Linked DNA regions of Homo sapiens. The protein of the gene in region 1 purifies or fractionates together with the protein of each later gene. This does not show direct contact. Each region holds a gene or a part of one and is shown on either strand. Other genes may lie near its edges.

Region 1 (3,842 bases):
CCCAACCCTCGGGCGCACATAAATCGCGGCCTGTGACTTGATTTCGGGGGTCACCGACCGACCCCTCACGCTATCCGTGGGCCCTGAGCTGGTGCTGTTACCCCAGTGTCACAGAGAAACCCTGGGGCATTATTCGTGCCCCTCCCGCAGACCGCCCAGTTCTGCAGGCTGGGACCGCCCGCCCCGCCCTCTGCCGCCCCTGCCGCCCCTGCCGCCCCTGCCGCCCCTGCCGCAACCCCGCTCTGGCCCCGCCCCAACCCGCCAGTCCACACTCATGTCCCGCCCCCCAGCCCCGCCTCCCCTCTCGGACCCGCCCCGATATGGCCCCGCCCCTCCGGCAACCCCGCCCTAAACTCGGACCAACAGGGGGCCCCAGCCCAGCCCCGCCCTCTCCCCAGCCCCGCCCCGACAGGGCCTCGCCCCCATCGGCTCACGAAGGCCAACGGCTTCCACGGCTCAGGCCCGAATCGAGACTGTCCTCCAGCTCGCGTCCTTCACGCCCGCTCCTTCCCCTCCGGCACTGGGGGGCACCGCGAGACTCTTACCCTCGCGGTCCCGCCAGCTGGGTCCTCCTATGCAGTCGCCAGCTCCCTTGCGCTGAGCCCGGCGCCAGCGGCGGCGCACGCCCGGAGGACTTCCCGCGTCACAGTCTCTTGTCTCCGCGGGCAGCAACTGTCTTAGACAGCGCCGCTGGTGTAGTGGTATCATGCAAGATTCCCATTCTTGCGACCCGGGTTCGATTCCCGGGCGGCGCACTTAGTTTTTTTTCCCATTTGAACATCGAACTCTCGCTAACGCCAGAAATTTAAAAGTAGAGAAAACCCGAAACCAAGGGAAGGCGCCCAGTCTGGCGCAGCGCTGACACAAATTTCGGAGAGTGACACAGGTGCCCTGAAAACCCTGGACGGCCATGGGCGACAGGGTGCCTGAGCTGAGGCGCCTGTAAACCAGCAAGCCAAGCTCGCCGTTCAGTCCCCTGCCTGGGACCGCCACACACCGCTGAGCCGCTCCCCACCGTGCCTCTGGCGACTGCTGGTCCTTTAACAGGAGGCGCGCGTGCTCCTGGGAGTTGTAGTTTATCAGCTTCCGACGTGCCCCGCGGTATCTGGACTACAGCTCCCGACGTGCCCCGCGGAAGCCCGGCCACCGCCCCCGACGCGACCCGCGCCGCGTCCGCGGCGGGGAGTTGTTGCTGCCGCGATGCTGGTGGCGGCGGCCGCGGAGCGGAACAAGGATCCCATCTTGCACGTGCTGCGGCAGTACCTGGATCCGGCCCAGCGTGGCGTCCGCGTCCTCGAGGTGGCCTCGGGCTCCGGCCAGCACGCAGCGCACTTCGCGCGGGCCTTCCCCCTGGCCGAGTGGCAGCCGTCGGACGTGGACCAGCGCTGCCTGGACAGGTGCGGCCCCCGGGGCGGCCACTTCTATCGGTGCGGCGGTCCGGGGCCTCAAGAGCCCACGGCCCGCAGCCCCGGAGGAAAAGGATGCGGCTCGGGCTCTGAGGGTGCGGGGTGGGAGCCTGGGGGTGCCCCCGGGGCAGGCCCTAGCTGTGCGGCCCCCGCGGCTGCGGAAGTGGGTGGACCTCGGGGTCCCCCTTCCCAGCCGCTTTGGTCTCCGCTCCTCAACGTGCCCCCCAGCCTCCCCTAAGAAATTCTGTGGGGGCGTCGGAAAGGCGGGTGCACAGGACTCGGCCCCCACCCAAGCGTTCGCCTCCTGCAGCATCGCGGCCACCACGCAAGCCCAGGGCCTGACCAACGTGAAGGCCCCGCTACACCTGGACGTGACGTGGGGCTGGGAGCACTGGGGCGGGATCCTGCCACAGTCGCTGGACCTGTTGCTCTGCATCAACATGGCCCATGTCAGCCCCCTGCGCTGCACGGAGGTCTGTGGGGAGCCCAGCATGGGTGTCTGCCGTGGCACCACTCACCCTGCATGGGGGCAGCTGGGATGCCAGATTTGCCCCCATCACAGTCGGGGTGAGGGTCTCCAGCCTCCCCCATCACAGTCGGGGTGAGGGTCTCCAGCCTCCCCCATCACAGTCGGGGTGAGGGTCTCCAGCCTCCCCCATCACAGTCGGGGTGAGGGTCTCCAGCCTCAGGGCCTGGCTTCTGTTGGGGGCAGCACCTCACTGCCGTCCTGTTCCTACTCACCAGGGGCTCTTCAGAGCAGCAGGACACCTGCTCAAACCCAGGGCCCTGCTCATCACCTACGGGGTGAGTGGGCCTGTCCACGGCGGGCCTCCCGCTCCCAGTCCTAGCTGCTGTCTCCTGCCCTGCTGAGAGTCCTCCCTCCTGGGCTCCCTGCCCCCCGCCCAGCCACCAGCACGGCCTCCCCTCCACTTCCAGTCTGTACCCCTCCCTGGGTCATCTGCCAGCCTCCCTACCCCCTTGCCCACCAGGCTGGCCTTGGCTGACTCCCTCTTGGGGACAGGGAGGGGGTGCCCTTTCATTCTCCAAACCCCAGCCTGCAAGTCTGTCCCAGGCTCTCTGGGAAATACCCCGACCTTGGTCCAGTGGGCTGTGTCCCCATGCCCACAGCCCTATGCCATCAATGGGAAGATCTCCCCCCAGAGCAACGTGGACTTTGACCTGATGCTCAGATGCAGGTCAGAGCTAGAGGCGGGGGGTCTGGCTCAGGTGGCAGGTGGCTTGGGTGGCACCCCCCAGGCCATGACTCCATCTCCCCACCCTCTGCAGGAACCCAGAATGGGGGCTTCGGGACACAGCCCTCCTGGAGGACCTGGGAAAGGCCAGTGGCCTGCTCCTGGAGAGGATGGTAGGTGGGGGAGCGGGGGCCCAGGCAACCTCTCTAGGGGTTGAGGGCCGTCCTCCAGCAAAGTGTTTCTCCAGGTGGACATGCCAGCCAACAACAAATGCCTGATCTTCCGGAAAAACTAAGCCCCTCCTTCACCCCCGCACACCTGCATCCCTGCCGGAGGCTCTGTGAGGCACGAACCCTGCCTCCCTAGGCCGGACCTTGTGGACGACAGCCCCACCCAGTCTGTGCTCTCAGCCGCTGGCCGAAGGGCCCAGCCTGCTCAGAATAAAGCATGTCCTGCTGCCGGCTTGCTGGTGTCTGCCCCACCTCCTCCTAGGAGCACCTTGTGAGGTTGGGTGGGAGACGGGGTCTCCTGTGGGGTCAAGGGCTTGGGACGTCCTGATCCTTGCTGCTGGAGCTCGGGCAGTGGGATTGGGGCCGAGACAGCTGCTGAGGCAGGATGGAGCTGGTTGGGGATGCAGGGGCGGACAGGCACTCCCTGGTGACCTTGTACCAAAGCCCAAGCCCCAGTGGGTGTCAAGGCCCCAGCGGAAACTGGCTGGGCATGGGGCACCTGGAAGGATGAGGGTCGCCCGACCAGCAGCAGCAAGCCAGGAGGTCTGAGGCACAGGGAGTGCGTTTATTCACCAGGACGGGGTGGCGCAGGCCCCTGCGGGGGCTAGTCCTGGAAGCGGTTGAGCAGCTCGCAGGCCTGCTTCTCCAGCAGCTCCAAGATCTTCTTGACGCGCTTCTCGCTGGCGGCGCGGACGTAGCTGCCGGCGTCCAGCACGGCCACGCCATCGCGCACCTCACCCATGATGACCAGCGGCCCGTCGCCCGCCGTCATGTTGGGGCAGGGGCAGGCCCAGTCCATGCCACTCAGCGTCACCTCCAGGTACTTGGTGCCCAAGAACTTGAGGCCCATCTTGTCATCCTTGAGCACGTCCTCGAGCGCCACGCGGGCGATGCCGCCGGCGGCCTCGGGCTCCTCCAGCACCTCCGTGAGCCGCCCCACGATGGCGAAGTCGCTGCGGCACAGGCTCAGCGCCAGCTTGCTCCGGAGGCGGCAGGCGCGGCAGGGCGGTGTG
Region 2 (3,810 bases), on another chromosome or scaffold:
GCTTTTTAAGCTTTTTTGACAACTTTAACAGGTACTTTGACCACAGAGTGCAATCTAAACCTTACTTCAACTTATTTTATAATAAATAAAGGATTTTTCAATTATATAATTAAGTTTTTGGTTAAAAGGACATTAAATTAATTTTTTCATCATTTCCCTGTACCCTATGCGGTTTCTCATTTTGTTAAACTTCTAAGATAGAAGGTACTGTCAGGGATGGGAAATGGATGGGAACCAGGCTTTTTTTTTTTTTTGAAAGACAGGGTCTTACTGTGTCACCTAGGCTGGTGCAATCATGGTTCACTGCAGCTTCGACCTCCGAGGCTCAAGTAATGCCCCTGCCTTAGCCTCCTGAGTAGCTGGGACCACACAGGTGCATGCCACCATACCTAGCTAATTTTATTTTATTTTATTTTTGCAGAAACAGGGTCTCACTCTGTTGCCCAGGCTGGTCTCAAACTCCTGGACTCAAGCAATCCTCCTGCCTTGGCCTTCCAAAGCGCTGGGATTACAGGCATGAGCCACCATACTTGGCCTAAAACTAAGAACTTCTGTTCATCAAAGGACATCATTAAAATGAATGGCAAGCCACTGAGTGGAAGATAGCTGCAAGATATATATTCAACAAAAAACTCCTTAGTATTCTATATTTTTTAAAAAACTCCTACAAATCAGTTTTAAAAAAAGATAATCCAATAGAAAATGGGCAAGGGACTTAAGCACTCACAAAAGACATCAAATGGGCAATAAACAGATGTAAATGCTCAATCTCGTTAGTTATCAGAGAATGTAAATTAAAACCAAAATGAAAGACCACCACCAGAACAGCTGAAATGAAAAAGACTGTTTTCCAGCATATTTACACAGAGTAGAAAAATAAAGACTCTCAAAAATATAGGGCAAAAGCAACTTTCATAAGCTCCTGGTGAGAATTTAAATTTCTACAACCACTCTGGAAAACCATCAGCATTATCTTCTTATGTGTTAAAATGGAGCAGTGATTCTACTCCAAAGTACATACCAACAGAAATGCAGGTACATGTACACCAAAAAAAAGTACAATAATGTTGATGGCAACATAATTCATAGTAGCCAAAACCTGTAGACAACCCAAATGTTTAACTACAATGTTTACATTTAGAAAGCATATTTAAGAGGTAAAACTATTAAAAAAAAAAAAAAAAAGGAAGCAAGCAAATACCAAAAATTCAGGATGGTGGTAATCCTTCAGGGGGAAAGGGAGCACGACAGTGCTAACAGTGTTCCTTTGCTTGACCTGGGAGGATTCACTTCATGATAATTTGCTGACCCGTGCATTTATGTTTTACCTTCTTTTTGTATGTGTGTTACACTTCACAGAAAAAAAGTGGGAAATAATGAGTTTTAATGCCAGCTGCTGGTTACATGGAATAAGTTAAATAAGTTACTTCTCAGTTTCCACTCACCAGCTTGAAAAAATGATGCTATGTTGAACAAATTTATCAAATTATTCTGAAAACTTCAACTATTAAATCCAGAACATATTATCCTCTCAAATTAAGGTTCTCAACAACCATACTTTATAAAGCATAATTGGGAGAATCACTTGAGCCCAGGAGTTCAAGACCAGCCTGAGCAACATAGTGGGACCCCGTCTACGAAAAATTTAAACGTTAGCCAGGCAGGTGGCGTGCGCCTATAGTCCCAGCTACTCAGGAGGCTGAAGTTAGAGGATCACTTGAATCCAGAAGGTCAAGGCTGCAATGTGCAGTGATCGTGCCACCACACTCTAGCCTGGGTGACAGAACCAGACCCTGTCTCAAAAACATACATACATACATACAGACAGACAGACAGACATAAATCATAACTGCTATTTGTGAAAAAAAAAAAAAAAAGACCAATTGTGTTACTAATAAAAACTCTACCTAGGAATTAAATAGCTGACCTGTCAAAAGTTTCCCATTTTGTTATCAACAGCATACATTTTAGATTAGTTTCTTTTGAGAGGTATACTAGAAAAGGAATTCCAAACTTACCTCTCTATTGGGTGTACCTTCATCAAGTTGCTCTGTAAATGAAGATGTCCTGCTCCTCATTCTTGTTGGTGTTGAAGAATTGGAGGACGCCTAGATTTAAAAATTATTGCACAAATTAGCAAGACTATATTGACTAGTGAACTATGAACTAGGTAGTCCTTCTCTCAGTCCATGCCCAAAGAATTCAGTGAAAGAAAGGAAAAGAGCAAAAACACGAAAAGCAGAAAAGGATAACAAATATAATCAACTAGAAAACCCAGGCTACCTACTAGGTCCCTGGCCTAACTCTGCCACCAACTAGAACTATGATCTTAGCTACATGAACTTTTTGAGGACTATGTGTCTCCATATATAAAATAAAGTTGCGATACTAGTGTAAGATGATAATATTAGAGAAAACTGAAGCCAGGTGAGGGGTATATAAAAACTCTCTGCACTATCTTTAGAACTTTTCTATAAACCAAAATTATTCCAAAATTAGAAGTTCATTTAAAAAAAAAAGGCTGGCAATTCAATCTTTAAGATCCCTTCTACCTTCTAGCTCTAACATTCAATAGTATGAAATGCACAGATAAACAGCACTTGCCCACCTAATTAATGGCCTTGCTTTGAGCCTACCTTGAATACCACTGCTAAATACTGAGATGCTATTCCATTTAGCTCTGTAATTGACAGCCTGACTCCTATAACCCTCAGCGCAAAAAAACTCAGGAGAAAGGGCTCAAAATTTAAACTAGAGGTCTGGGGTCTACTCTAAGGTGAGCTAAAAACAACCCTAAAAGTATAAAACCAAAATTTTGAAATCCCCCTACACCCACAGCAAAATAGATCTGAACTCAGATCTATTTTGAGAAATGAATGAGTCATGATATCTTACCTCTTTTTGTAGTCTGCACTTTACAAAAGGCAGTTAATAAATATTTGTCAAATAAATGAATGAATGAATAAACAAATGGAACTCTGGTCTGTGGTATCCGTGCACAAACTGCTGTGGTTAGGGTGGAACTGAGAGGTCGTGAGGAATAGTATACAAATATACACATACTCTATATACACATATATACATCCAGACAGACATATACATATTTAGCTTATGATAAAAGTAACATTTTGCATCAGGATAGACATTCAATAAATGTTGGGACAACTGGCCATCCATATGGGGCAAGACACACAAATCAGATCCTTCATACTTAAGCTATATTAAAGATTTAATTTTTTTTATTGAAATACAAAAAATTCAAGAGTCTATTTCTACAATCTCTGAATGGGAAAGAGATTTTTATGTGAAAAACAAATCAAAGCAGCAGTTTAATTGGGAGGTGAGGAAAAGCATCTACAAATATGACAAAAGTTTAATAACCTTTTTTCTATAAACAGCTCTTATAAGTCCGTAAGTTAGAACTCAGAAAACTTACTAACCCAATCTTCTTTTTATCTGAGACAGGGTAACCTGAGCTCCATCAATGAAACACATGAGACTTCGAGTCATAAGTGAGTGATGTGAAAAAACAGACATACAAATAAAGTTCATCATCTGATGACAATGGAGACAGAACTTCATGCATCCACACAAATATAAGCTGTGAAGTGACAGATGCAATGCTGGTGCCAAGCTGAAGCAGCTGCAACACAGAGTAGTCTCCCCAGTATAACTGGACGTAGCAATCAGCTCAGACTTTTGGGACCTCAGGGAAATTCTGTAGGGTAAAGAGTCTTCAATAAATTATTTTTCTGCTTACCTAGATTGACTTTTTGTTGCTTACAACCAAGAACTCCAACACCTTCTAAA

The links.
Region 2: the proteins of METTL26 (region 1) and GOLGA4 purify together in Homo sapiens (affinity purification with mass spectrometry; one large-scale study listed by BioGRID and IntAct). This does not show direct contact.

Annotation. Positions count from the first base shown.
Region 1 is NC_000016.10:633,649-637,490, reverse strand, and holds METTL26 (methyltransferase-like 26), read left to right. Parts: upstream 1-1,185; 5' UTR 1,186-1,200; coding exon 1,201-1,397; intron 1,398-1,716; coding exon 1,717-1,879; coding exon of another isoform or gene 1,880-1,973; intron 1,974-2,150; coding exon 2,151-2,210; intron 2,211-2,427; coding exon of another isoform or gene 2,428-2,534; coding exon 2,535-2,602; intron 2,603-2,693; coding exon 2,694-2,772; intron 2,773-2,846; coding exon 2,847-2,894; coding exon of another isoform or gene 2,895-2,965; 3' UTR 2,966-3,061; downstream 3,062-3,842. Other genes in the region: WFIKKN1 (WAP, Kazal, immunoglobulin, Kunitz and NTR domain-containing protein 1 precursor), read right to left, coding at 3,434-3,842.
Region 2 is NC_000003.12:37,249,693-37,253,502, reverse strand, and holds part of GOLGA4 (golgin subfamily A member 4), read right to left. Parts: intron 3,806-3,810; exon of another isoform or gene 3,761-3,805; intron 2,109-3,760; coding exon 2,019-2,108; intron 1-2,018. UniProt on the Homo sapiens protein: Involved in vesicular trafficking at the Golgi apparatus level. May play a role in delivery of transport vesicles containing GPI-linked proteins from the trans-Golgi network through its interaction with MACF1. Involved in endosome-to-Golgi trafficking.